Regions from separate parts of the Homo sapiens genome. Here regions 1 and 2 are each linked to region 3. The links come from fine-mapping of genetic effects on gene expression. A gene starts in region 3. Each other region holds a variant in brackets. All regions are shown on one strand. Distances are from middle to middle. Region 1 has its middle 9.4 kb from the start of LINC00689. Region 2 has its middle 18 kb from the start of NCAPG2. Region 3 holds the start of ESYT2 (extended synaptotagmin 2).

The links.
Region 1: its variant is fine-mapped to the expression of ESYT2 in whole blood (INTERVAL, PIP above 0.99).
Region 2: its variant is fine-mapped to the expression of ESYT2 in lymphoblastoid cells (TwinsUK, PIP 0.95).

The regions. Positions count from the first base shown.
Region 1 is chr7:158,994,857-159,003,039 of GRCh38, reverse strand. No RefSeq gene overlaps it. Among named protein-coding and RNA genes, the nearest start is that of LINC00689, 9.4 kb to the left of the region's middle. The variant C/A (reference allele first, on the strand shown) is at 4,556.
Region 2 is chr7:158,718,819-158,727,001 of GRCh38, reverse strand. It overlaps the pseudogene RPL21P76. Among named protein-coding and RNA genes, the nearest start is that of NCAPG2, 18 kb to the right of the region's middle. The variant C/T (reference allele first, on the strand shown) is at 4,486.
Region 3 is chr7:158,826,147-158,834,329 of GRCh38, reverse strand. ESYT2 (extended synaptotagmin 2) reads left to right here and starts at 4,821. Exons shown (of 23, transcript NM_001367773.1): 1 at 4,821-5,241. The coding sequence starts at 4,912. RefSeq lists enhancers at 3,858-3,967, 5,978-6,047 and silencers at 4,278-5,007, 5,098-5,197, 5,248-5,437, 5,528-5,577, 5,658-5,857.

The DNA.
Region 1 (8,183 bases), 170 kb before region 3:
ACGGGAAACCCAAAAATGCGTGTGTCTGGCTTTGTTGCGGGGGTCTGGAAGTGAGCCTGTGACATCCCCGAGCTGTGTCTGGATGTGGCCTATCCCTAGAAGTTTGTGCCTCGTGGCTGCGCTGTCTGAAGGCCTGAGCATAACTTGCACACAGACACTGCCTCACCTCTTTCCTATAGCAGTGACCAGCATCCCGTGGCCCTGCAGGCACCTCCTAGAGTGCATCTGGCAGAGACACATCACTAGGCCAAACCAAAGCAATGGGAACCCTGTCTCCAGGTTCCTGGTTCCATGAGGGAATCAAGTTACCTCAGCAACAGTGTGTCTGCATGTATGTATGAATTTTAAACAACTACAACAAGGTGGCAAAAGCAAGCCCCCTCTGGAGGATAAAGAAAAGCTGAAATACTCCACAGCACTTACCAGACGGGGCGAGGGAGGAGCCCTGCTCCACGCGCTTCTCCGGCCACAGGGTCTGAACCTTCGGGCATGTCTGCTTAGAGACGTGGAATTCTGTCAAATGAGCCCCCCTAGAAGCTTCCGGTGAGAATCTGTCTAGAACTGTTGGGTGGGCTGTGGTTTGACTTAACCATCTGCATGTAGATAAATTACCATTTATATGTGTGAAGAAGGTATCCATCCAGTGATGATCCAACACGTGCTCATCACATACCATTAAATTTTCAAAAGTAACTGGTGTAGCTAATTATCTGTCTCAATCTGGCAGCCTCTGAAGTGTCACTTACAATTTGTGCACTCAGCTCATAAACCTGAAGTATCCGGATGCCCAGTGCTAGGTCAGATGCCCAGTGCTAGGCCAGATAGCCTCTCATCCTTCTGAAATGAAAGTTTGGAATTGTGGTGCCACAGAGAAGGGACCCTCGGGTCCGTGGTTGAGACTGAGCCTGTGGAAGCTCAGAACTTGGCGATGAGCGGCTGCAGTCACGGGAGCACAGGCACCTTGAGCAGGAGAGACCTAGGGACCCCTTTGTGCAGCCCCTCCTCACACGGGGAGACGGGCAGCCCTGGAGGTCGGGGGTTGGGGCTGAGGCCACCCACACACATGGGCTCTCCTACCACCTTCTCCTCCTGATTCAGGACTGAGGAATCCAGGAACCCTGGGGAGCTCACAGGCACCAGGGACTGAGACGCTGCAAGGGCATCAGCCATCGACCATTGGACAGCCACCGCAGTGAGCAAACCCCAAAGTCTCGTGCTAAGAAGAGACTTCATTTGGAGAAGTGAATTCTGACAATACTCCACAAACAAAGTTAGGACAGTTGTTCAGGACAGCAGCAGGGAGGCATCGAGTGGAAGTGAGGAGGAACCGGCCTTTGTGGAGCTCCAAGCTGCATAAAGTCTCCCAAATGCAAAGTCTCGCTCCAGTCAGCAAAGTTCAGAGCAGCTCTCTCCAGCATCTTCAGCCACTGCCAGGCAGGCCGGCTCTCAGCACGGGTGGTAAACTTTCTCATTTTCCTCATGCCAAAAATACATCATTTCCAAAATAGAAAAATGATATTGTTCAGAGGTGAGGCAGGTGCGTTAGGAAAGAACAAAAACAGGCCTTATTGGATATGACAAGAAGTGCGGCCCCTTTCAGAAGCAAACTAGAGAACCTGAGCCAGGAAGGACGTTGCATTTGCTGAGTGGCCGAAAGCTGTCAGGGGTCGGGGCATGCAGAAGACGTCCTGTTATTCACTTCTCAGAACAGACCTGTGAGTAAAGAACCACATTTCATAGATTAGGAAACAGCCCCGGAGAGCCTCGGTGACGTGCACGAGGTCCCCAGCTCCGCGGCGGGTGAGCCAGGCTCCAAGCACCGGCTTTCCTGGCTGCACTTCCTGGAGGGACAAATTTGGGGATGAGAAGGAAATGAGGGCCTGGCGGGGTCTCTAGGGTTTTCATTTTGTGTCTTCACATAGGTGGCGAATTTGAGAAACTGTAATGGACGATTTTACTCTGATGAGCTCTAGAGGGGGTTGCTGAGAAGCGAGGCCTGCGTTTTCCTCCTGACGAGGTCTGGGCGGGCAGTTGTCTCCTACCTTTTGTACTAATTCACCTGGTGACACTGTCAAAGGAGAGAAAACCACAGGTTAGCAATTCCCACTATATTCATTCCAAACACAGCCCATCGTAATCTAAAAAGCCATCAGGGCCATCGCAGGGCTCCATGTTTCCCTGGGGATGTTACTTCCTGCACACTGACCAGCAGATGATACTGACAACACTTTGCAGCCTCAACCCGTGATAACGGGAAAAAGATAAAATAAAGAGGCTGGACATGGTGGCTCACACCTGTAATCCCAGCACTTTGGGAGGCCGAGGTGGGAGGATTGCTTGAGCCTAGAGGTTTGAGACCAGCCTGAGCAACAGAACAAGACCCTAGCTCTTTTAAAATAACTAAAAGAGTGTAATTATATTGCTTGTAACACAAAGGATAAATGCTTGAGGGGACGGATGCCCCATTGTCCATGATGTGATCAGCACGCATTGCATGCCTGTATCAAAGCATCTCATGTACCCCATAAATATATATGCCTACTATGTACCCACAAAATTTAAAAATAAAACATTTTTAAAGAGAGAAAAGAAAACCCACAGGGGGCAGGCACAGATTCTGGCTGCCTCTGGCGCATCCACATGGATGTTGGCATTTCATCCTCTTCTCAGAGAAAGCAGTTGGTCCCACCTCCACCCGCTGTCTGCGGAGGGGTTTGGACTCTCAGCATCTTGGCTATGCTGGCACTCTTCCCTGCTCAGGGAGCCAGCTGTTCCTGGACCCCTGCTAAGAAGACCTAACCGTGGATGGCGTCATGATCGCCAGGCCGTCCCCCGTTCTTTCACCCTCTCGGGACCTGGAATTCCATCTTGCTTCCCTATTGTGTCTGTCCACGGGGCCAGTCACAGGGCAAGTACTCAACACGTATTTGTCAAATGAAGGAATACATTGTACGAAGGAAAAATCGGAAAATGCCACCTCTGAAGATTGGAAATCAGAACTAACAAGAATCCAGGTGAGACATTGAGCTCAGCAGGAGGTTTCCCAGCAGTGTGTTCTCTGTGAAAATGTGACTCACAAGGCTGCCGGGTGGGGAGCGGAGGGGCTCCGAAATATCATCTGGGAATGTGAAATGATCAGTAACATTAGCAACGATCCGCTCAAGACTGAGCCAGGACAACAAAAAGTTTTGGTGGCTGATGAGGGTCAGTCAGGAGCGCTGGGTAGAATGGAGCTAGCCACCCGCTGGTTTCTGGCATTGGACAGAAACGCTAAGCCAGGGGTTCTCCTCACAGGCCCAGGGGGAGGAACGAGCACGGGGCGGTTTGAGGAGGGAAGATGGGGCGGAGCCCCAGGGGCAGCCTCGCGCATTGGGTCCGGGTAGTGTGATCCCAGAGCCTGCGTCTTAGCACTGTGCGGCCTCGCCCTTCTTTTTCTTCCACCTGTGCGTGGAAATAGAGCACGAACCCAGGAATGCAGACACCAAGTCTCTCCACCTCGAGACGCGCATAGCACACAGAGCTGCAGAGGCCACGCAGATAAACCACCAGCACTCCAGACTGGGCAGGAGCCGCTGTCAGGACAGAGGACACCTATCCACACCCGCCTGGCCTCAGAAGATCCTGGGTCAAAGAATAATTCTCTTTTCATGTATATGTGTTGAAAGAATTTCAGACTAGCAAGCAAGCCGTTTTGACTGTTTCTTAAGATACGTAGGGAGTTTGTTCTTTCTTTATTAGCAGAAAGCCACGTTTTAAGGATTAAATTTTTTCCATAAGAACGTAAGGAAAATGTGGTGAAACAAACACCTTCTGTTGGTCAGGGAAACACTGGGTACCTTCAACGTGAGGGGCTCCTGAAGACCTCCTGAGAACCACACAATGACCCAAGACAGGACCTCAGCTGCCTCTTGAAGGCAGAGGGGAGGCTGCACATTTTACAGGTGATCTGGACGTTGTTAGATGCTACAAATAAGAGCCAAGGAAAAGATGTTAAGCGTCTGCGTGAGTCAGGAAAACCTGGAGCGTGAGTGGAATCACTGCTTCCTGACTCGTTCCCTCGCCATAGGAAATGGCCCTGGGCAGAAAACAAGCCCCTGAGGAGGGGGGAGCGTGGACGCACGTGGGGAGTGTGGAGGGGGGTCCCCACTGAGGAGAGGGGAGCGTGGATGAAGGTGGGGAGTGTGGAGGGGGGTCCACACTGAGGAGAGGGGAGCGTGGATGAAGGTGGGGAGTGTGGAGGGGGGTCCCCACTGAGGAGAGGGGAGCGTGGATGAAGGTGGGGAGTGTGGAGGGGGGTCCCCACTGAGGAGAGGGGAGCGTGGATGAAGATGGGGAGTGTGGGGGGGGGTCCACACTTAGGAGAGGGGAGCGTGGCACACGTGGGGGTGTGGAGGGGGGTCCCACTGAGGAGAGGGGAGCGTGGATGAAGGTGGGGAGTGTGGAGGGGGGTCCACACTGAGGAGAGGGGAGCATGGATGAAGGTGGGGAGTGTGGAGGGGGGTCCCACTGAGGAGAGGGGAGCGTGGATGAAGGTGGGGAGTGTGGAGGGGGGTCC[C/A]CACTGAGGAGAGGGGAGCGTGGACGCACGTGGGGGGTGTGGAGGGGGGTCCCCACTGAGGAGAGGGGAGCGTGGATGAAGGTGGGGAGTGTGGAGGGGGGTCCCCACTGAGGAGAGGGGAGCGTGGACCACGTGGGGGGTGTGGAGGGGGGTCCCACTGAGGAGAGGGGAGCGTGGATGAAGGTGGGGAGTGTGGAGGGGGGTCCCACTGAGGAGAGGGGAGCGTGGATGAAGGTGGGGAGTGTGGAGGGGGGTCCCACTGAGGAGAGGGGAGCGTGGATGAAGATGGGGGTGTGGAGGGGGGTCCCACTGAGGAGAGGGGAGCGTGGACGCACGTGGGGGGTGTGGAGGGGGGTCCACACTGAGGAGAGGGGAGCGTGGATGAAGATGGGGGTGTGGAGGGGGGTCCCACTGAGGAGAGGGGAGCGTGGACCACGTGGGGGTGTGGAGGGGGGTCCCCACTGAGGAGAGGGGAGCGTGGATGAAGGTGGGGAGTGTGGAGGGGGGGTCCCTCTGAGGAGAGGGGAGCGTGGACGCAGGTCGGGGGTGTGGAGGGGGCCCCCCACACTGGGATTTCCATCCGAAATCCACATTCCAAGCTTCATCCACCAGCCTTCGCACTCCTCCGGAGGTCCCCAAATCCAAGTCACCAGAGGCTGATACGCAGAAGCTAGACCGTGGGTGCGCAGCTGGCGGCGAGGGTGAGCAGAGCCCTGTCTTCTGGTCAGAGCTAACCCCAGGAAGGCCGAGGGGCATGGGCCGAGGACATGTGCGTGGGACCCCCAGCGGAGGGGACCGCCGAGGGACGGCCTCTCTTCTGTGGACTGTGTAAGGCGCCGCGTGTCCCTCCTTTCTCTAAGCTTAACTGCTGCAAAGCCTGCCCCTTAGCCCTCTGCCCGATGAGCCTTCCTGGCAGATGGTGGCATATTCACCCTTCATCACGGTGCAGTTACATTCGTGCCGAGGGGCGTTTTGTCTGTAAGGTCCCTTGCCTATTTCTGCCCTGATTCCCACTGAGACGGGTTTCCAGTTAAATCTCAGAGGGCCAGCAAATCCCCTCGCGGGGACGCTTTGTCCCAGTGACCCAAAAGTCAACACTTGGGAGGCGTGTGCTGTGGGAGACAAAGGGGCACAAAGCGGCAGGAGCCCCAGGAATCGCGGACGGAAGCGACTGTGAAAGACCCGCGGGGGCTGCCCAGGGGAAGAAGGAAACGGGTCCCAGGACCCGCTCCAGAAGGCGCCTGCGGCAGGGGCTCCCCGGAGCGCGTGGGAACCCGAGGAGGCTGGGACGCGCCCGGGGGCAGGGACGGGCGTTTGCGAGGCTGCGAGGCTGCGAGTGAAGCGCCGGGCTCCGGAAAGGTGTTGCGAGTCGAACAGTGGATCCCAGGGTAAAAAGCGAAGCTGTAAATATGCCCAGGACCGATCCAGGGAGCTGCTGCTTCCACCAGCCACGGAGTCTGGGCTTTATGCTGAGAACCGTGGGGGGTTCGAGGCGAGGAGAGTCACAGAATCGAAGGCTGCCGCGCGGTCCGAACGGCGGCCCAGGCTCAGCCACGCGGTGAGAGGCCGCGGGGTGTGAAGAGGCTGGGCCGGCAGGTCCTGGCGGGTGAGGGGGACGGGAAGCGGCCGAGGATGGGTCCTTCGCTTGGATTCGGACGGTGGTGCTGGGAGCGTCATCCACCATCCTCGGAGCAAGAGCCCAACACCGGGGAGGACCCAGGCTCTTCCTGGACCCGCTGAGCTTGGGCAGCCTGGGCGGCCCTCAGTGAAATTCTCCAGCAGGTGATGGAGACTCTAGACCTGGAACTTGGGAGAGCCAAGGCGGTGGGAGCAGCCTGCATCCAACAAAGGAGGGAGACCCCAGGGGCCTGTGCAAGCTACGACCACCGGTGCAACCCCTCTGACAAGCAATGTGAGGCCCTGTCCTCCCCCGACCCTGCTCTGAAAACGGGGCTGCACTTCTTATCCGCTGGGGACACAGGCCATCATGGAACCCGCCCTGGAAGCGGAGAAGCAGGGGAGCCGCCTGGCCCCATATTTCTCACACCCAGTCCCTCTGGGGTCAAATCCTAATGGACGCGACCGGCCAGGAGTCCCCCAGAGCCACCCCCGCAGCCCTGGCTGTCTCAGCCGCCCACAGGGCTCAAGTGGACAATGCCAGAGGCAGCAAAGTCCCCATGAAGCAAAGCCAGGTGTGAGTGGCCTGCTGGACCCCACCGGGCTGGAGGACAGAAGGTGCCCCAAGGAAGCCAGGCCAGGCCCGCGATGGCTCCGGGCTGCCTCACCTTATCCAAGCCCCAGAAAAAAGACTGACCAGGATGAGTCTCGTCATTGGGATGAAACTTCACCACTAGAAATGTGTTTTTCAAATGGAATATCCTTTAAAGTGCAGACACCCTCGGCATCTGCAGCAAAATAAGTTTTATTACATTTCAGTATCTTCACCTAAAAACATTTTAGGGGGACACGTCGGGAAATATGGGGAGGCGAGGGTCGCGGGGGGCCCGTCAGGAAAGGGGGAAGCGAGGGCCCTACGAGACACACCAGGGTCTGTCTGACACAGAGGAAATCACATTTTTGCCAAGAGTCAGCCCAAGGCCAGGTTCTCAACTCCAGCACTCGGGCTGAAGCCTCGCGGCCGTGACAATCCCTCAGCAAGTGATGCTCCTGGGACTGAGGATGGGAGGACGGGATGTGCTTTCAGGTGAGGCTGGGACAGGTGGTCAGCAGCAGGGGAATAGCCGAGGAGGACGTGGGATCAGAACGTGGACCAGGGAAGCCTTCTGCGTGGTGGGGTCCGCCACGGCCTCCCGCTATGACTTCTTGCAGGAAGAAATGCCTCAACACCTCGCTTTGTAGTAAGTGACCCTGGGCCACCTGGTCCTTTCTGTTCACTCTCCCCAGCAAGCCCTGAAATGTGGCGCCACCGGCAGCTTACCTTTGTCTACTTTGGCGTGGTGTGGAAAACCGATGCCAGAGCTTTAACCAAGCCTTACTCCAGAGCACGTGTCCCGCCAAGGCCTCTTCCCGCACCTGCTGCGGTGTTGGCACTGGCCCCCGAGGGCAGGAGGAAGGAACCATCACGTTGCAGCTCCAGCTCCAGCCCTGCTGTTGTTCGTGTTTTTCCATCTCCCAAAAACCTCCAGGGAAATGTGACATCATAACAAACTGTAATTGGCATAACAAGTAATGCCCCCATCAATAATAAATAAAATGATTTCTTTTAATCCTAACATGCTTTTTGACTTTCCGTATTTTGCATGTTTATTTTTAACTTTTAGGTTCAGTGGTGCATGTGCAGGTTTGTTACGTAAATTGCGTGTCACAGGGTTTGCTGTACAGACTGTTTTGTCACCCAGGTGATAGGCATAGCACCAGGTAAGTGGTTTCTCGGTCCTTGCTCTCCTCCCGCCTCCACCTGAAGTCATGCCTGTGTCTGTTAGTCCTTCTTTGTGTCCATGTGTTCTCAATGTTTAGCTCCCACTGTAAGTGAGAACACGCGGTATTTGGTTTTCTGTTCCTGAATTAGTTTGCTGAGGATAATGGGCTCTAGCTCCATCCATGTTGCTGCAAAGGACGTGATCTTGTTCTTTTTTATGGCTGCATAGTATTCCATGGTGTATATGAA
Region 2 (8,183 bases), 110 kb after region 3:
TATTTGGATGTAGAAATGTCTGTGTCGTATATGGTAATGCCAATAGCTATTGGAAAATATGGAAAAAGTCATACAGCAGCAGCCTTAGAAGTGCAACAGCACAGATGACCAGCAGCCTTGCTGCCTCTGGAGGGGAAAGAAGGAGCTTATTGCTCTCCAAAAGTTCCATCCCCAGGGAATTGTCACTATTTCAACTCTCAGGCTCCCAGGAAAACTCCATCTCCAGGTTTGTTGGTCCAGAAGAATCGGTGGCGGTTGTTTAACATTGCAGCTGCCTGAGGCAGTGGTAGCAGTTGGGACAAACAAGAGGCCAACCAAACACTTTGAAAGGAGAACCTAGGGGATGAGACTGTCCACAGAGGGCTTTGTAAAACTCTGGCATTGCTGGGGTGCTAGACACATGCACATGCCGGGCTGTGCACATCCCCAGGAAAGACCTGCAAGAGTTCTCATTTCTGGCTGTGAGGTGCCTGCTGGAAGACTGAAGGCACCCAGCACATGCACAGGGCCCCTTGGCAGCAGGTGGGAGACCAACTGGTCTGAAGTATTCAAAGAAGTCCTTTCCAATCCTTAGCTGGCACGTGAGCTAACCCAGCAGAGGCTTCAGAGGCAGCATGTGACAACACAGCTTCTAGAGAGTCCAAGTATGTTACTAAACACAAAGAAACAACAGTGACAACCATCATCAACAACAAAGCCAGGAGTGGAAGAGGGATCTTGTCTACAGAGTTGCCACACTATATTATCTTTATTTTTTTTTATTTTTTTTTTAGATGAGTCTTGCACTGTTGCCAGGCTGGAGTGCAGTGGTGCCATCTTGGCTCACCACAACCTCCACCTCCTGGGTTCAAGCAATTCTTCTACCTCAGCCTCCCGAGTAGCTGGGACTACAGGCGCCCACCACCATGCCCGGCTAATTTTTGTATTTTTAGTAGAGACGGGGTTTCACCATGTTGGCCAGGCTGGAGTATATTATCTTAAATGTCCAGATTCAATGAAAAAAGGATGAGGCATGCAAAGAAACAGCAGAGTGAAGGCCACACACAGGAAAAAGGTAGTCAGATAAACCACCCCAAAGGAAGTCCTGGTGCTGGACATCATGTGGACGAAGACAAGACCCTGAATCCACTTTTAACGTGTTCACGGGAATAAGGGAATCATGTCAACAATTACAAGAAAGTATGAAAATGATGTCTCACCAAAACAGAGAAGATCAGTATAGAGAAATTACGAAAACAGTAACCAGAAAGCCTGGGGTTTAAAGAAGTGTAATGTGAAATTCACTAGGGGAGCTCACCCATGTATCTGAGCTGACAGAGGAAAGAATCAGCAAACTTGGAGGTGGCTCCATCGAGATTATCCAGTCTGAGGGACAAAAAGAATAAAGAAAAACGAACCTGACATACGTGCAGTGAGAGTTCCAGAAGGGGAGGAGGGAGAGAAGCACCAGTGAAAACACTGAAAGAAATAATAAGCAAAAACTCCCTAATTTGGAAAGAGCCACACGCAGGCACATCTTAGTTAAACTGTTTGAAAAGACGATGCAACTAGAGAAAGACTCATCGCCTCCGCAGTGCGAACTGCTGAGTTCTCATCAGAAACCCTGAAGGCAGAGCAGAGGGATGAGGGATTCAAGGTGCTCACAGAGCCTGTCAGCCAGGAATCCTGTCGGCAACAGCTGTCTACAGTGAAGGAGAAACTAAGGCATTGTCAGATTTTTTTTTTTTTTAAGAGAACTTGTTGTGAGCCAGCGTGCCCTACAAGAAATACTAAGGATAAAGTCACTTTTTTGTCTTTGCGTACATGTCAGGCCCTAAACAGAAACACCTCTCTAGAGGGTCTACGTTTCCATTTTGCAGGACCTCAAGTCTGGGAAACAGGGAGGCCCAGTGGGGTAGAGCATGGCTCTGGAGTCAGAACCCCCAGGTTCAAGCCCCACTTCCGTCCCACGGGACCTGGAGCAAGTCAAGTAACTTCTCTGCCTCCATTTCCCCCTCTGCAGAGCAGGAATCGCTGTAGTCCTTACCTCAAAGGCAGAACTGAGGATGAAGTGAGGTCATCCCTGGAAAGCACTTAGGACAGCACTGGCCCATCGCATTGGACCATCATCAGCCACCACGTCCACTCTCTGTCCTCAGCTTTGCATGATCGTCAGCCACCACGTCCACTCTCTGTCCTCGGCTTTGCACGATCATCAGCCACCATGTCCACTCTCTGTCCTCGGCTTTGCACGATCATCAGCCACCACGTCCACTCTCTGTCCTCAACTTCTATCAGAATGTGGCACCCTCCCCTCCTTGTCCACTAGGTTAGGACAACAATAGTGTTACACTTTCTCTTATACTCAAATCCCCAAATCATTAAGGCATGAACCTTCCACCAACCTAACTGTCAGAGGTGCCTCTCCCCTCTCCAACTCCAGATTCCTTCCCCACATACCTGGCTATTCAGTATCTTCTAGCATTTGCTACTCATTTGTCCAAGAACAAGGCCCTCTACTCCCCTGCCTTTTTGGTTGTTGTTGTTGTTTTTGACAGAGTCTTGCTCTGTTGCCCAGGCTGGAATGCAGTGGCATGAACACAGCTCACTGTAGCCCCAACCTTCCAGGCTCAAGTGATCCTCCTACCTCAACCTCCCTAGTAGCAGAGACTACAGACATGCACCACCACAGCTGGCTAATTTTTTAATATTTTGTAGAGATGGGGCTTTGCCACATTGCCCAGGCTGGTCTCAACTCCTGGTCCAGAGGGCTCATGTGATCTTCCCGCCTCGGCCTCCACGGTGCTGGGATTACAGGCGTGAGCCACTGTGCCTGGCTACCCCCACCTTTTTGAGGTCATGCGTCTGTTGGGCCTGTGTATCCCCAGTGAAGTCCCCCAGGGCTCCACTTGGCCTTTTGGGGCCTCCTTCATTCTCCACAGTACAATGAGGCCATGCAGTTTCTTCTTTTATTCATGGTAGCATAGGTGCAGACAGAAATGTGCACAAATCCTATTTCACTGCCTTGATGAATTTCCAAGCTGAACACACCTGTGTAACCAGCACCGTCAGAAGAAATAGCAACGTCAGAGCCCCAGGCACCCTCTTGTGCCCCTGCTGGTTCTGCCCTCACCCTACCAGGGATCACTCCGCTCCTGACGCCTCGCCCTGCAGATGTGTTTTTTCAGATTCTGAGCTTGATGGAAGTGGAAGCGTTCAGTGGGTTCTCCTGTGTCTGGCTGCTTTTATTCAACATTGTGAGAGGCAACATGGTGCCTTTTAACAAGGTTTGACTGACGACTTGGGTGTAAGTGAAGCTTAATACAGAAAGAATTGATACCAGATGAGGCCCAAATCAGGCTTCACAGCCAGCCCACCTCCAAGTCCACACCCATGACCACAGCTGCATCCGTGTCTTCGGCCTGCGAGCCCAGGCCTGTAGGCAGGAAGGACTTCTAGGCTCACAGCAGAGGCCTCACCTGCACCCAGCATGAACACTTGGGCTCCGCAGTTCACCAGTGGACGGCACCCCCGTTCAGGCCTGGCTCCTTCCATTTCCATAACCATGAGGGCACCGCAGACCAGGCTGGCGACGCCGCAGCCCCATGCCAGTGTTCACAGGCTTTTCTGCAACAGGGATAGGGACCGGCGTCTGAACCTCACTTGGATCAGACACAGCAGAGGCTGGTCTCAGTTCCCAGTCTCTCGTGAGAACCATCACACACACACCACACACATGGACAACACACAATATGCACACAACACATACCACACGTATTCATACAGATACAACACAGAACACAAACAATATATACACACCATGCATGCATAACGCACAATACACACAAAACAATACACACAACAAAATACACATCACACACATTTACATGGACAACCAAGAACACACCACACACTTGCACAACAGACAATATACACACAACATACACACAATATACAATTCACATACCACACATTCATAAAACAGCATATAACACCACACTACCACACAAATACACAAAACAATACATCATACAATATATACACAACACACAAGACATACTACACACACTCAGACAACACAACACAATACAACACAACACAAAATATACATACAAAACAATGATAACAGGACACACAACACAACACACATACAACAGTATAACACGCGACACAGTCCACACACATGCACACAGCACATGCTCACAGCTTCCTAGAGTCTAAGTCTAACCTGAGTGGGGAGCACTGGCCTGGGTTCTGGATGACGATGCTGCCTCGGGGCTAACTCAGACTTACAGAGAAGTGCATAGGATGGCTGTGGCCCACACAGACACAGTCAGGGCCTACAAAGTTCAATTCCAGTCTCTACACTGAAAAGAGACTCTACTCTGAAAGAGAGCTGTTGATGACCATTTCTCTAGTTAAACAAACTAAAGGTACGGCTCTCAGGCCCTCTGTTCCCTGCAGGCAGCCCCATCAGTGGATGGGTGCTTTGCTTCTCTGTAACCT[C/T]TCTGACAATGCTTACTATTAAACAACCTCTTTGTTTGGCTCAAGATTCACTTCCACTTGTCCATGATTCTCCAAGCTTCTTCGACCCTGAGTTGAAAGGTGAAAGCTTTTTATTTATGATTTTTTTTAAGAGATGTGATGGATATTCACAGGCATGATCATAATTCACTACAGCCTCAAGCTTCTGGGCTCAAGCGTCCTCCCATCTCAGCCTCCCAAGTAGCTGGAACTATATATATATATAGTTATATATATAGTTACATATATAGTTATATATAGTTGTATATAGTTTAGTTATATATATAGTTATATATAGTTATATAGAGTTTAGTTATACATATAGTTATATATAGTTATATATAGTTTAGTTATATATATAGTTATATATAGTTTAGTTATATATATAGTTATATATAGTTATATATAGTTTAGTTATATATAGTTATATATAGTTATATATACTTTAGTTATATATATAGTTATATATAGTTATATATATAGTTATATATAGTTATATATATAGTTATATATAGTTTAGTTATATATAGTTATATATAGTTATATATATAATTATATATAGTTATATATAGTTATATATAATTATATATAGTTATATATATAGTTATACATATAGTTATATATAGTTTAGTTATACATATAGTTATATATAGTTATATATAGTTATATATAGTTTAGTTATATATAGTTATATATAGTTTAGTTATATATAGTTATATATATAGTTATATATAGTTTAGTTATATATATAGTTATATATAGTTTAGTTATATATATAGTTATATATAGTTATATATAGTTTAGTTATATATAGTTATATATAGTTATATATACTTTAGTTATATATATAGTTATATATAGTTATATATATAGTTATATATAGTTTAGTTATATATAGTTATATATATAGTTATATATAGTTTAAGTATATATATAGTTATATATAGTTATATATATAGTTATATATAGTTTAGTTATATATAGTTATATATAGCTATATATAGTTATATATATAATTATATATAGTTATATATATAGTTATACATATATTTATATATAGTTTAGTTATACATATAGTTATATATAGTTATATATAGTTATATATAGTTTAGTTATATATAGTTATATATAGTTTAGTTATATATAGTTATATATATAGTTATATATAGTTTAGTTATATATATAGTTATATATAGTTATATATAGTTATATATAGTTTAGTTATATATAGTTATATATAGTTATATATAGTTATATATAGTTTAGTTATATATATAGTTATATACAGTTATATATAGTTTAGTTATACATATAGTTATATATAGTTATATATAGTTTAGTTATATATATAGTTATATATAGTTAAATACAGATATATATAGTTTAGTTATATATAGTTATATATAGTTAAATATAGTTATATATAGTTTAGTTATATATAGTTATATATAGTTATATATAGTTATATATAGTTTAGTTATATATAGTTATATATAGTTTTGTTTTATATATAGTTATATAGTTATATATAGTTATATATAGTTATATATAGTTTATATATAGTTATATATAGTTATATACAGTTATATATAGTTTAGTTATATATATAGTTATATATAGTTATATACAGTTATATATAGTTATATATAGTTTACTTATATATAGTAATATATAGTTATATATAGTTATATATAGTTTAGTTATATATAGTTATATATAGTTTAGTTATATATATAGTTACATATATAGTTATATATATAGTTATATATAGTTTAGTTATATATATAGTTATATATAGTTATATATAATTATATATAGTTTAGTTATATATAGTTATATATAGTTTTATATATAGTTATATATAGTTATATATATAGCTATATATAGTTTAGTTATATATATAGTTATATATAGTTTAGTTATATATAGTTATATATAGTTATATATAGTTTAGTTACATATATAGTTATATATAGTTATATATAGTTATATATATAGTTATATATATATATAGAGAGAGAGAGAGTAAATTATTTAATTCCTTCCGTAATGATTTAGAGGGACTGTCTTCAAACCAGTACAAATGTTTCATAAATAATATCTGGCCGTTTTCTAACCAATTGAGTAATTTGTTGCACAATAAGCCACCTTACAACTTTCGAGTCGATTTTAATCTATTAAATTTGAGTAGTAAAAATGTTACGTAATTAGGACACGATTAAAATGTGGTTTAAATATTTCTGTCGGGGAGAGGACGCCACACTTCTACTCAATGAAGACAAACATTTTTACGGTCCAGAGGTCTTTTATTTTATTTTATTTGAACACCTATGATGTCATGAATTCACAGGGAATAGCTTCCAGCAGCTCAGGTTCCTTCCCCTTGGTTCTCGCACCGTGAGCTTTTCTGGGTGGAGCAGGCTGCAGCTTTAGTTGAAGCAGGTACCTTTCTCTGCGGCTTCTTTCTTTTTCTGATCATTTTCCTCCACACATTTCAGGAAGCCACTTAGAGTGCTCCGTGTGCTCCATACGCACATAATTCTCTCGGCAGGAATCTTGCCCTTGTCTGTTTGCAACAGCACGCTGGAGAACGCGGTCGACTCCCAGCTTTGCCGCGGTCACACCTGCGGAGCTTCCTTTTTGAACAATATCTATTCCCTTGATGTCTACAGTATCACCTTTCTTATAGACTCGCATATACGTGGCCAAAGGAACAACTCCACGTTTTCTAAAAGGCCAGAGAACATCCATCGGGAGCCTCTCCCCTTTCCCCTCCTGTTGGTCATTTGGGCCAATGACGGAAGATGGCGGTTCCGGCCGAAAGGAAGCGTGGCTGAACTCTAGTTGTGCATTACCATGTCCATCTCTAGATGAATATTTTAACTTAAAACATAATAGCATAAGCTTCTTGGATCACTTATTATGCAATAATTCTTCCAAAAATTTGCCCAGAGATAGTGCGCTGGATGCGTCTCATCATAATTCTCTGAATATGTAAATACTAGCGTCAGTTGCTAACAAAGTATGTTTTGTAAGGCAGAACAGCTACGTAAAGGCTTTTCATTCCTTCTGCTCAGGTGTAGGAAACAGCTTTGGGGAACTGTTATTTTGTTGTTGTTTTGAGACAAGGTGTCCCTCTATCGCCCAGGTTGGAAAGCAGTGGCACAATTCCAGCTCGCTGCAGCCTCAGACTCCTGGGCTCCAGTCATCCTCCCACCTCAGCCTCCCAAGTAGTTGGGACCGCAGGTACACGCCACCATGCCTGGCTAATTTTTTTATTTTTTGTAGAGATGGGTGTTTCACTATGTGTGCAGGCTGGTCTCAAACTCCTGGGCTCAAGCAACCTCCTGTCTTGGCCTCCCAAAGTGCTGAAATTACAGGCATGTGCCACTGTGCTTGGCTAGGAAGTTTTTGTTCTCCGCTCATATTCCCTTGCTTTGAGAACGTAAACCTGTGAAGCATCTCATTGACTTTCTCAAAATATAAAATACAACCAAAATACTGTTTAGCGCTCTTGATTCATTCAGCAACATTGAAACACGCACCTACTATGTACGAGGCGGTTTGCGCGGCAGTGATGGGGAAGCTCTCTGTCTTCATGGGCCAAATACATCTGCCTGTGTATGTGTGCGTGCGTCTGTGCTCATGTGCGTGAGTGTGTGGCCGTGTATCGTGTGTGT
Region 3 (8,183 bases):
ACTAAAAATACAAAAAATTAGCTGGGCATGGTGGTGGGCGCCTGTAGTCCCAGCTACTGGGGAGACTGAGGCAGGAGAATGGCGTGAATCCGGGAGGCGGAGCTTGCAGTGAGCTGAGATCACGCCACTGCACTCCAGCCTGGGCGACGGAGCGAGACTCCATCTCAAAAAAAAAAAAAAAAAAAGATACCAAGAGGTTTGATGTCTGGTGAGGGATCCTCTGCTTCCAAGACAGCACCCTGTTGGTGAGGGGAGGAGTGTTGAGTGCTCACCTGGCCAGAAGCCTCGTCTGCAAGGTCACTACCTCCATCCACAGGGAGGAGCCTCATGGCCTAGTCACCTCATGGTCTCACCTCCTTATACCATCACACTGACCACTAAGTTTCTTTTTTTTTTCTGAGATAGGTTCTCGCTCTGTGGCTCAGGCTGGAGTGCAGTGACGTGACCAGAGCTCGCTGCGGCCTTGATCTCCTGGGCTTAAATGATCCTCCCACCTCAGCCTCCTGAATAGCTGGGACTACAGGCACATGCCACCATGCAAAGATAATTTTTAAATTTTTTGTATAGATGGGGGTCCCATTGTTGCCCAGGCTGGTCTTGAATTCCTGGGCTCAAGCGATCCTCCTGCCTCAGCCTCCCAAAGTGCTGGGATTACTGGTGAGCTACCACACCTGGCCTTGGCCATTCAGTTTCAACATCTGAATTTTGGAAGGGACACATTCAAACCACGGCACCCCCAAATACTCTAAAAACAAGGATCACCTCCACTACACAACCTTCCCAGTGGAGAAATCAATATCAATACATTGTCCAACCCATAGACCCCACCCAAGCTTCACCAACTGTGCCCACACTTCTTTTCCCATGTCTGGGACCTCCCAGGAACATGCATTGCATGGAGTTGTTATGTCTCTTCAGTCTCATATAATCTGGAACAATTCTTAGTCTTATCCTGTCTCTTATGACAATTTATTTATTTGAGAAGGGGTTTCCCTCTGTCACTCAGGCTAGAGTGCAGTGGTGCAATCATAGCTCACTGCAGCCTTGAATTCCTGGGCTCAAGCAATACTCTTGCCTCAGCCTTAGTAGCTGGGACTACAGGCTCGTGCCACCATGCCAGGGCAATTTTTAAGATTTTTTTTTGTAAAGATGGAGTCTTACTACATTGCCCAGGCTGGTCTCGAACTCCCAGCCTCAAGTGATCCTTCTGCCTCAGTCTCCCAAAGCGTGAGCCACTGTTCCTGGCTCATGACAGTAATAAAGAAAACAGAATGGCCTTCCTTCTGGGTCTATCTGATATTCCCTAGGCTAGACTGAGGCTGTGGTTTCTGGCAGAAAAGTGTCAGGCGTGCTGCTGTGCTCTTCTCAGCACAGTGCACGGGGACTCAGTTTCAACTTTTCTCCACTGGTGACAGGTGTCTCATTACCTGGCCACGCTGGTGTCTGCTGGTGTTTCCCACCAGAAAGTCTCAATTTTCCTCTTTGTAATGGAAAAGTATGCTGAAGAAAGATGTCCATTCTCATTCCTCATCAAATCTCCACCTACCACCCTGAGCCTCCATTGATAGCTCACTCCTGCAACAACCCCACTACAGTGATTGGTAAATGGTTATTTCCATTCTCACTCCTGCAACAACCCCACTACAGTGATTGGTAAATGGTTATTTCCATTCTCATAATTCCTTCTCCATTTATGAGTTCACATTCTACTGTAAAGAAGAACCTCCCCTTCTCCACTATTATTTTCCCTGCATTCATCACTGGTTTGTTGATCTACATCAGTGTGGACTCAACTCATGCGTTTCTATTTTGCTCACTCAGTGGTAATCTGCCAATATCATTCTTTGTTTTGTTGCTCAAATTGTCCTAGATTTCGCCAGCAAGAACTCCCTCCAACTACTTTCCATGTCCTTTGATCTCCTGTCAATCTTTGAGCACTTCTTCACTTCCTTGAACAACAAAATTATTCCAGGATCATCTTGTACTTCCACTCCAGCCCTGAAATTAACCATTTCTCCAAAGAGCCCTGATTCCTTTTGTTGGAAAACCTTATTTAGAAGATAAGATCTGGGGGCTAGCTGTGATCACTGGTACTGGGGTACCATTGCATCTAGATACTCAGCAGACAGAACTAGAAACTATTTCTGTGTTTATATGCACATATACCTACACATGTGTGCACACACATACAGCTATCTTTATATCTATCTGTATATACATATTTTAAAAAAATGAGTTCATACTACCACTTCCAGTTCCAATCCAATCCCTCAGTGTTCTTTTTAGCCTTCCCTCTTCCATGTTTTTACCTTCTCCAACAGCAAGAAACCTGGCTTTCACTGTCCCCAGTATATTTAATTTGCTGGTATAACCTCCAAATTGAAGAGATGCAGAGCACGTGCTCCCACCCTCCATAACGAGACGTATTTAGAGGTGTGGGGGAGGACCCAAAAGCAGGAAGAGTTGAACCTAAGCACAAGATAGCACTTTCCTCTGAAACCAGGAAGGCTGGAACTTCGCAGCTGTGCACCGGAGCACTCGGAATGACACTCCAGAGAAAGCAGCACTTCTCCTTGTCTACAAGAAGGAAAGGATGGAGGGGTCATGAAAGGTCACAGGAGATTGAGGGGTATAATATTAGCAAAAATCTAAGAGCCGAGCTGGACCTGCAGTCAGACCAGACACCTGTAAGACTGAGCTGTGGCAGAGCCTTAGGATCTGCTTTCTGCAGGCAATTAACCACAGGGAGGGGCTGGAAACCCGGGGCTCACACAGAGGGAAGCTGAGGACACTTGGGCTGACTGGTATGCAACATGGAAACTTCTCTTCAATCTAGTTTACATCCTTGGGTCAACCACTGGATGGCACATGGCACAGGATTTTTTTTTTTTTCTTGAGACGTAGTCTTGCTCTGTCGCCCAGGCTGGAGTGCAGTGGTGCGATCTCGACTCACTGCAACCTCCGCCTCCCGGGTTCAAGTAATTCTCCTGCCTCAGCCTCCCGAGTAGCTGGGACTCCAGGTGCGCGCCGCCATGCGCGGCTAATTTTTTGTTATTTTTAGTAGAGACGGGGTTTCACCATGTTGGCCAGGATGGTCTTGATCTCCTGACCTCGTGATCTGCCCTCCTCGGCCTCCCAAAGTGCTGGGATTACAGAATTTTTTACGTGGCTTATGTTTATGCAAGTCTTTGTAGGATGTGATCCTACAATTTTCCAGTAGAGGAAAGCTGCAAAAGAAAGGCTCAGGCTCCTTTCTGTGTCAACAAAGCAATTACTTGCTTTTGTGTTGAGGCTTAGTTTTGAATGAAAGGTGGTGTTAGGAGCATTAACCGGTTGCATATTTACAATCTACATAATATAATTTGTTGCTGCAGCAAACCAGGGACTGTGAAGAGTAAGAAAAGGGAAACCACTTCCATTCCTTGCTTGGGGTTTACTGCCCTTGCCTGGAGTTGAGAGTTTAGACTCTGCAATGTTTTACATATGTGATATAATCTCCACATACATATGCACACAAAATTATGAAGACGCAGGAACGAGGGGAGACAGATTCCTATGTAAAGGTGACCCTGCTTCTTCTGGGCATTTGTTTATTCATTCAGTACCTGCCAGTGCCCTACTCTGTTACAAATTCAGTAAAAATTTCCTTGGAATTCACTGAATATGCTCAAAAACAGTCAAGTAGGATGTTCTTTGCTACTGTTTGGCTTGGAGTTTCCTTGAAAGAAACTACAGAACAAATATAATTAACTCGATTGAATTCACTGGAAAGTAAAGTGATCAATAGTTGTGTTTTTGAGTTAACTGAAAAGTGACCTCAGGAATCACAGGAAAGGCCCAAAATTAGTCGTTTGAAACAGCTATTCATAGTTGGCCACAATATTAACACCTTCGGCGAAGCTGCGTGGTGCCCGGGGTGGAGTTCCCGAGTGTCAACAGCGTCCCTTGGGCGCTTGCGGTGGTCTTTGCCCGGCACTACCAGACCCCTCAGGGAGGACTTTTGGGATTAAAGGCATCTTAAAAGCCAACTGAACTGTGTGAGAGTTGTCAAGGTCACAACGGAGTCGTTTGTGTTTAAAACCCTGACAAGCAGGGTGGGAAGGGCCCCAGAGGCAGCGTTCTCACGCCGGAATGCCCGATAACAAGACCGTCCCGAGAGACTCCGCAAAAGCCACAACCTTGCACACTGGCTAGGCAACCTCACACCGAAAAATACCGGAGGACTCCCGCCAGCGGCGCCCGTCCGACCTCCGGCGGGCGGCGCCCTCTCACCCGTCCTCCTGGCCGCAAAATGACCGCAAACAGGGACGCCGCCCTCTCATCCCACCGCCACCCCGGCTGCGCTCAGCGGCCGCGCACCCCCACGTTTGCCAGCAGCTCCCAGAGGCGGTCAGCCTTTGGGTTTGACGACGGCAACTTCCCGGGCCTCGGCGAGCGCAGCCACGCACCCGGAAGCCGCCTCGGGGCGCGACGCCGAGCCAAAACCGCCCGCGGGCTCCGAGGCCACAGGCAAGTGGGGAGGGTGCCCCGTGGGGCTCGAGGGGACGCAGGCACGCCCAGCCCACGCACCGAGCACTCTCCTTTCCCGTCCCCGGCTCCCGCCAGCCGAGACACAACGCTCGCGTGATGACGTCGTGCGCCTGCCCGGCCCACTCCAGTAGTCTCCGACCCGGCCCACGGCCCGCCCCGCGCGATGACGTCAGTATCCACCCCGCCCGCTCCCGGTGACGTGCCAGCCCCAGGCCCACGCCGCTCCCGCCCCGCGTGATGACGCCACCGTCCCGGGCGGAGGCGGGCGTGCGGCGGAGCCGCGTCCCCTCAGAGGGGCGCTGGCGCGGGGCTGAGCCGCCCGGGATCAGCGCGAGCACCCAGCCCGCCTCGGCCGGGAGGGCAGCGCGGCACTGCGGGGCGATGAGCGGCGCCCGGGGCGAGGGCCCGGAGGCGGGCGCCGGCGGGGCTGGGGGCCGCGCGGCGCCTGAGAACCCCGGGGGCGTGCTGAGCGTGGAGCTGCCCGGGCTGCTGGCGCAGCTGGCGCGGAGCTTCGCGCTGCTGCTGCCCGTGTACGCGCTGGGCTACCTGGGGCTCAGCTTCAGCTGGGTTCTCCTCGCGCTCGCGCTGCTCGCCTGGTGTCGCCGCAGCCGCGGCCTCAAGGCCCTGCGCCTGTGCCGCGCGCTGGCGCTGCTGGAAGACGAGGAGCGCGTCGTGCGCCTGGGGGTGCGCGCCTGCGACCTGCCCGCCTGGGTGAGTGCAGACCCCTGCCCGTCCCGACCCCTGACCACCAGTCCCGATCTCCCCTCGTCCAGGCAGGCACTCCCCTCCCCGCGACCTGCCGCCTGGGTGAGTGCAGACCCCAGCCCTGCCCCGGCTCCCGCCTTCGTAGTCCCCCACCCACCCCGGTCCAGGCAGGCGCTTCCCTTCCGCCTGGGCGAGTGCAGACCCCAGCCCCGGCCCCCGGGCCGGTTCCTGCGACCTGCCAACCTAGGTGAGTGCAGACCCCGCCCCGCCCCCCGGCCCCGACTCCCAGCCTGCTGGCGACCTGCCCGCTAGGGCGAGTGCAGACCCCAGCCCCGCCCCGGCCTCCGGCCCACTCCCTGCGAACCTGTCCGCCTGGGGCCGCCGCCCGCTGCTCGCCGCTCCCGCCCTAGTCCTGAGTGCTCCGTGCCCTCCCTCCGTCCAAGTCGGGCGTCCCCTTCTCCGCTTCCCCGCCCGCCCAGGCTCCGGGTCCGGGGCGCGTCTGCCCTCGTGAAGCCTCCCCTCGCCGTCCCGCGCGGCTTTCTCGGAGACCCCTCTTCACAAAGCCCGCTTCCCTCCCCCGGCCTGCAGACCCCGAGCGCCAGCGGCAGGTACCGGGCTTGGCGCCCCCTCTTCGGCCGCGGCCCTGCCCGGAGCGCGCGCTTCCTCCTGGTGCCGCCCGCGGGGTCTCCTTAGGGGCCTGAGCGGCCGGTTCTGCTCTCAGAGCGCCCAGCGCGATTCTCGTGCGCATTCCCAAAGCCCTGCCGGCCTGGAAATGCTCCGGGTGGCTTCAGCTTTTCCTTCTCTCTGTTTTTTAAAAAACGTAATGACAGCTGGTGGGGGAGAAGTTAACTTTTTCTTCTACCGGGAGAAGACGCACTCGTGTCTTGGTTGTTTCTGACGCATTTCAAGGGCAGTAAGTGTCTCTCGAAAGATGTGGAGATATTAGATAATTGAAAGATTGTTTCAGTTTTTTTGCAAGTATAATTGTGAGACTGAGCATTTTTATATGGGATCGACCTGAATCCAGTGTGAATGTGTGTGTGTGTGGCAGGAAGTTTTGGAAGAGTTGCAGCAATAACAAGAGTCATGGTATTATTTTATTTTTAACCCGGCAGTTCTCTACCTCGTATATTTATGGACTATAGACACGAAGAGTTGGCTTCAAATCTTTTTCTTGTCATTCCCTAATTCTTTCTTAGCCATGACTTGGCTTCACAGTTTCACACTGCAAGAAAGGATTTTAATGATTCTTCCATTAGGCTTAATATAAACTTTGGGGTGAAGGTGACCAGCAGTGGGTTTCGGAAGGGTCATTTTCTCTTAGAGGAGAAAAGTCCCTGTTTCCAGTCATGAGACACCTGAGAAGTAAGGCATGACACAGATGGCAAACAAGAATTAGAAAGGAGGCGTGCCCAAGACAAGAAGAAGGTAGTAGATGCTACTTTGTGACGTCATATTGCAACTGGAGTAAGAATATAATGTAAGGAGCTTGGGAATGTACAGTTCTGCCGATGCGTGGTGAGCATGAGGGAGTCATATTTGGAGAACCAAGGTAACTGGCATGGTGCAGCTTTTAGCTAGCGGCGGGAAAAACCGAGGGGTGTGTAGAAAAAGGAAGTTAAGAGGAACCGAGGTGGGGAAAACTAAGAACAGAGGAGGTGCACTTTGGAAATGGAAAAGGACTTTAAAGTGACGTTTTGTGTCTATATTACACTAAGATGCATAATACTAAAAAGTAGCTAAAAACAGAGTCCATTAGCATCCATTGCTATGTTATATTGATAACATAGCAATGTTATCAGTGCTGAAATTTGCAGGAAGTGATGATGCTGACTTTCATAGATACTTGGTTATTGGCTAATATCAAATTTGCTTGTTAAAAATCTTTGTGAAACACAGATTTTCTTTTTCTTTTCTTTTTTTTTTTTTTTTGAGACAGAGCCTCTCCCTGTTGCCCAGGCTGGAGTGCAATGGCGTGATCTCGGCTCACTACAACCTCCGCCTCCAGGGTTCAAAAGATTCTCCTGCCTCAGCCTCCCGAGTAGCTGGGATTACAGGCGTGCACCATCACGCCCAGCTAATCTTTGTATTTTTAGTAGAAACAGGGTTTCACCATGTTGGCCAGGCTGGTCTCAAACTCCTGACCTTGTGTTCCGCCTGCCTTGGCCTCCCCAAGTGCAGGGATTACAGGCGTGAGCCACCGCGCCCGGCCACACAGACTGTACAGATGAAATTGCTGCCCTATTGAAGAACTGAAATTTTTTTTTTTTTTTTTGAGACGGAATCTCGCTCTGTTGCCAGGCTGAAGTGCAGTGGCACCATCTCAACTCACTGCAACCTCCGCCTCCCGGGTTCAAGCCATTCTCCTGCCTCAGCCTCCCGAATAGCTGGGACTACAGGCGCACACCACCACACCCAGTTAATTTTTGTATTTTTAGTAGAGACTGGGTTTCACCATGTTGGCCAGGATGGTCTCGATCTCTTGACCTCGTGATCCACCCGCCTCAGCCTCCTAAAGTGCTGGGATTACAGGTGTGAGCCACTGCGCCCAGCCTGAAATTCTTTAAAAAAAAAAAAAATACAAAAGTAATTTAGCCAAAGATTCTTTTCAAGTTTTTAATCTGTGTGACTTAAACTGATGAACTGTGGTGTTCACCTCATGAAGAATTTATATTTTCTCCAGAATGTTTTACTTGTTTATTCCAAATTTGTACTTGAGCTCATAATCCCACATGTGTAAACTTCAGTGTGCCTAGGATGCTTAAGACGCTTCTTGAAGGATTCACATGAAACTTGACAGTGATTATGTTGACAGTTTTAGAGAGATTTTAAAAATATCTTTTAAATTATACTTATGTATCTATTTTGTGATATTTATTAAAAGTGTAATATACTTTATTTTCATAATAAAACCAGCAGGTTGCATGGTCTCGAAGTGTGCCTGAAAT